2 separate regions of the Homo sapiens genome follow, and region 1 is linked to region 2. A link means that fine-mapping ties the variant in region 2 to the expression of a gene that starts in the linked region. Tissue or cell type: testis. Region 2 holds a variant in brackets; the other region holds the start of a gene. All regions are shown on one strand. Distances are from middle to middle.

The links. PIP is the estimated chance that this variant, and not a neighbour inherited with it, causes the effect.
Region 1: LINC00445 starts here. The variant in region 2 is fine-mapped to the expression of LINC00445 in testis (GTEx, PIP above 0.99).

Annotation. Positions count from the first base shown.
Region 1 is chr13:35,696,633-35,699,399 of GRCh38, reverse strand. It overlaps LINC00445 (long intergenic non-protein coding RNA 445), which reads right to left and starts at 1,673. Exons shown (of 2, transcript NR_132115.1): 1 at 1,549-1,673; 2 at 144-661. LOC124903224 (a long non-coding RNA gene) reads left to right here and starts at 1,946. Exons shown (of 2, transcript XR_007063891.1): 1 at 1,946-2,008. RefSeq lists enhancers at 1,727-2,322, 2,323-2,767.
Region 2 is chr13:35,564,561-35,567,327 of GRCh38, reverse strand. NBEA (neurobeachin) reads right to left here. Exons shown (of 59, transcript NM_001385012.1): 45 at 311-423. Among named protein-coding and RNA genes, the nearest start is that of MAB21L1, 89 kb to the right of the region's middle. The variant C/A (reference allele first, on the strand shown) is at 1,098.

The DNA.
Region 1 (2,767 bases), 130 kb before region 2:
AATGAATCAGTGTGGACTTTGCAAAAGCAGCCGGGCCGAGGGTGCCGGATCGCCACGGTCAAAGACTGCAGAGCTGGAGAGAAGAAAGTTTCAGATGGAAGGGGAGCATTTTCCCTCTGAAATGAAATAATTGTGATACAGGATTTGATTTTTTTTAAGAAAAACAATCTTCTTCCTGCTGTGATGAATTTATTCTGGAGGTTTGAAAGGAAACATGTCCCCCCTGAGAGCATGAGGACGATGAGTCTGGAGGGTGAAGTCTGCGATTTCAGTACACGTGTTCTCATTTATCAAGGGGCGGTGCTCGGGTGTGAAGGGGGAGAATACCAAGGGTGAAAAGATTCAAGGTGATCAAACTATTTTTCCATTTGTAGCAGAAAAAAAAGAAAGAAAGGAAATAAAAGAGGGAAGGAAAATCATTTCATTATGTGGCAACCAAACACAACCAGGGGTAGCAACCAGAGGTAGCAAGCAAGTAGCAACTTTGTTCTTCAGAGCAGTTCACTCTAGGGTGTCCTGAGTTTTCCAGGGTGCAGTCTGTGACTGTGGAATTTGAAAACAGCAGGAGCACAAGAACAGAAGTTGCATGGATGTCTAGAGTTGTCATCTCTCGAATGCCCTCTGCGGCGAAGATCCCTCCTAGCGCCACCTGGATGAATCACTTCCAGGGGAAAGTGGAAAAAGAAAACTATTACATTGGACATTAATTTCCATGCTAGGCATATTATATGCATTTCTTTCTCTCTGAATAAAGTCTGCAAAATAGGTATGATTTTCCCCATTCTAGAGATAAGCTGAAAGTTTCAATTATCTTATGCGCCCTGTTCAAAGAGGCCCAGCTGGCAGTGGAGGTGAGATGGAGTGAGCTAGCAGTGGAGGTGAGATGGAGTGAGCTAGCAGTGGAGGTGAATTGGAGTGGGGCCTGTCTGCCATCAGCACCAAGTCTTGTTTAATTATTCCACTCTGCCTTCCCAAGATGTCCCTGACATGTTAGGTGGAGTTCTGAAGGTCCGTTTAGCAACACAGGTTAAGGCCTAAAGGATCTCCCTCCCTCCATCGCTTAAATGCTATTTTTATGTATTTATTTATTGTTGAGACAGTGCCTCACTCTGTCACCCAGGCTGGAGTATAGTGGCGTGATCATAGCAAGTGAGCAGCCTCAATCTCCTGGACTAAAGCCATCCTCTAGCCTCAGCCTCCTGAGTAGCTGGGAGTGCAGGCATGTACCACCGTGCCCAGGTAATATTTTATTTTATTTTTTTTTTGTAGAGATGGGAGTCTTGCTATGTTTCCCAGGCTGGTCTTGAATTCCTGGTCTCAAGCAATCCTCCCATCTCAAAATCCCAAAGTGCTGAGATTATAGGTGTGAGCCACCGCACCCAGCTTTAAATGCTATTAAACAAGGGAAATCAGTAGGTTGGGTAGATGTACTCAAAGGGCAGGAATGAGAACAACACACTGAGACTCATTTGGGGAACAGGAGCTGTGCCTTCAAGTCACTGTGGGGTAAGGCAGAATGGAGCGAGTCCTAAGGGCCCCCTAACGCACCCAGTATGTGATATGTGATAGAGAGAACGGTTACTCATCACCACTGGAGATTAACAAGGTCTCATCTGCTCGTCTGGTCGCTTGGCTATGCTGTGACACCTGACACTGGCTGATGATCCGAGGCTTTACCAGCTTTAGAACACACCTATGTGTGAAAGCCTTGGGCTCTGAACCTGATCCACTCCCCGGGGGCCCTTCAAAGGGTTAACACTGACCTTCCCCGTCCAGACCCTTACCATGGGGCCACAGCCTTATCTAAGGAACTTGGTCCCACGCCCTCCACCCTCTGCCCTCCATGAGCCTTTCTCTCAGGCTCCTCCACAGAGGGACACTCATAAAATTCCTGTTGGTCATCACCACATTCCAGAATTCCTCCGTGGTCACAGACTGGGCCTCACCTTGACCCTGAGTGCTGGGCTGCAGAGAGTTGAAATCCATCCCCAGGTTCCCCGTAGTTCAGGTGAGAGAGCGGGATGGAGCTGTCCCAAGCCCAGGCCTCTGCAGTTGTTTGAAACCTGAGCCCGTGCTTTTCTTTGAAGTTTAAATGTGGACCTATTGTTTTTTCCTGATAATAATAAACAGGGTCAGGAGAGAGGAAGGCAGATGAGGAAAGAGGAGGAGGGCAGGCAGCAGTCTTGTCAAGTAAAATTACCCCAACTCTGCCTTTGAAGGGGCGCAGCCTTGGTTCTGCGGTCGGCATGAGAGTGAGGGGACTGGCCAGGCAGGGTGGGATTTGCAAAGAAATCAAGGGTCCTGAAATGTGGTCACCGAGGGAAAGGGGATACGCAGCCGTCCAATAGGAGGACGGGCCATGGTCCTGCCGGACATGCCAGGGCAGCCTGGGCTCTGGCTGCAAATGTGACCTTCCAGTCCCTCTCATTGCCTATTCACTGCCCCCAGGAGGTGTCCTCCGCCTCCAGTGAGTGACTCCAAACCATGAGTTTGTTTGGGCTAAAACCCTTCCCTCCCCTTAAAGTGGCAGAAACAAATGTTTGGAAACAAAGGTGAATTGAGAGTGACAGCTCGTGACCTGGCTCTGGTGCATGTTGAGCCAGTGTCCAAGCGGCCACCGGACACTGTGCCATCAGGCCAGAGTTGATTTCCTGCAGACTGTGACTCTGAGAAGCAGCCCAAACCGCCCACCTCTGTTCAGAGGAGACAGGCTCTCCCCACAGGGTGAGCGTTTGTGTTGCCTGAGAATCCATGAGCCCCGTGGCAC
Region 2 (2,767 bases):
TTGCCATCATATTTTCTACTAATTTTAGGTTTTTAACCTTGACTTTAAAGCCTAGGATATATGAGAAAACTCTCTCTACATCTGCTGTTTCTCAAATACCCATTTCATTTTGCCTATGCTAGTACTAGTTTATCTTCTTGTAGCTTAATTCCTGTGCTAAGAATTGGTAAGATTTAGAAACTGACTATGTAAGTCAAGATAATCAGTTTCACCTTCTTACAAACATTAACTGGCTATATATACTCTGACAGAAATACTATTAGACTATAGCCTTATGAAGAAAGCTGACTTCTATATATTTAAAAGTTACCTTTGATAGATCCCTGAAGTTTCCTGGAAGAGTCAGGTCCAACTCTTCTGATTCATAGTTGGTTAACACCCACGGAAACACTGGATATTGGTTCAGATCATTATATGTCCGTCCTAGTAAAGAAAAACAGAAATAAAAATTTGTACACACAAAATGCTTATGAAATAGTTTCTGTTTTTACAAAGCATCTACTGAATTTCAGAAGAAAATAACTTTTTATTTATTGAACCGTATCTTTAACTCTGATAACAATGCATTTCAAGGGAATTCACTCAATAATTGTTTTAAGACGTAACTAGAATTACTATTTATAAGACTGTGATAGAGGCTACTGGCTGGTTATTGTAATTGATTCTCCTCTTCCTGTGTTACACCACATTTCTCAGCCTCCCTTACAAGTAGCTCTGGCCACAGGATTTAGTTCTCATCTACAGAATGTGAGCAAAGTCTCTTCAAGACTTGGCCCACTGAAACTTCCTGCATGTGTGTCTCATCTCTCTTCTGCTGATGTAGATAATATTGCAACCCCGGAAGCAGAGCCTTGCCAGTCAGAGGCCCTGAAAGTAATTATGGAGGAAGTCACCCCACTGACCTGCACATCTGCAGCTTATGTGGTGGTATTCTATTTTATCTTTTATTTATTTATTTATTTATTTTGAGATGGTGTCTCCCTCTGTCGCCCAGGCTGGAGTGCAATGGCGCGATCTTGGCTCACCGCAACCTCTGCCTCCCGGGTTCAAGCGATTCTCCTGCCTCAGCCTCCTGAGTAGCTGGGATTACAGGCACG[C/A]GCCACCGCACCTGGCTAATTTTTGTATTTTTGGTAGAGATGGGGTTTCACCATGTTGGCCAGGCTGGTCTCCAACTCCTGACCTTGTGATCCATCTGCCTCGGCCTCCAAAAGTGCTGGGATTAGAGGCCTGAGCCACTGCACCTGGCTGTGATGGTATTCTATTATAATGAATATATATCTAGAAATTATATTATGAGTACACAGAATACTATGTTAAACTTATATCAAGAATGAATGCAGAGAATTTGCGAGTGGACAGAAGTACTCTGAAGCTAGGATGAGAAACTACAGAGGCAGATGTCAATCATACATTTTTTCACTCCTTAAGTTCATGAAATATTTTTTTGTCTTATGTTGTTTCACTTTAGCGAAGAACTGCTCGATCTTAGGGTGAATATGTCTGCTTATGTTTTGGTAGAATGACTTAAATATTTCAGGTATGATATTGAGGCACAGTGGGAATGGGGAAAGTTTAGGGGAGCAAGCTGCGGCCCCCCCTCATAAACTGAAACTGAAAAAACATGATCAGGTGAAATTAAGAGAATAGCTATTAAAGAAACAGGATCCTAAGAAAACTTTTGTTGAACAAAATTATTTTTTATAAAAATGCGTTATGATCCAATTATCAGTAATTTTCTAAATTTCCATTAAAATTCACACAAAACAGCTATTTCACTGGTATTTAGTGATATGAGTTTCATCCAGTATGCCATGGTTGCACACACCACATGTACTATCACAGTAGCATAGATATGCAGATATTATCTTGTTCATCATCAGGAAATTACATTAAATGATATCTGCTCTTACAGCATTTGGAAAACATAACTGTGAAATAGAAAAAAAAAGAACTACAATCTGAGTAAGAACCAAAATCTGTAATTGCAAGCACCAAACCAAATTAATTAATATATTTAGAAAACACTTTATTGATGACTATTTTATCTGTTTATTATATGAAGCTTTGCATTTTACAACTAAACTGCATATTGCTTTAAATGTATAAACTGGTGTGGGTATGTAATATAGGTGTGGGTATGTAATATAGGTGTGGGTAATGGCAGCAGAATGTTGCTTCCACTTTGCATTTACTGGGATGAGGTTACAGCTAGGTTAGGGCTTCCCCTGTGTTGCCTCACCACAGTTCTCATACAGACCTCTATTACACCTGATATACATTGCTGTTTACTTCTCTGCCTCTCCACCAGTCTGTAAACTCATAAATGTCAGGGCTGGGTTGTTTGTTTGTTTGTTTTAATCTCTGTGTGTTGGCATATGCCATCTGCCCAATAAATGTTTGTTGATGGAATGGATATGCATGTGATAAAAATGGAATAAAATGACCCAAATTTCAGAAGATGAACAAATATAAGTCAAGTAAAGGAAAACTGCAGAACATTATCTTTAGAAGACGAGGATTATGCAAAGGCGTAGAGGTATATATGAGAGAGAATGATATTGTGAATGTCTACATTAAACGAGAAGAAAACATCTACAGCTAGGTAGCTCAAGCAATCAATGAACCTGCTTGTGTTTAAGTCTATGGTGAATAATACTAATGATGAGATTAAACAAGAGTTCGGAGCCATATTAAAGTCTTTTGACATGACAATAATCTGCTAAAACAGTACCAATATTGTAAAATAAAAGCTGTACAATTCTAAACT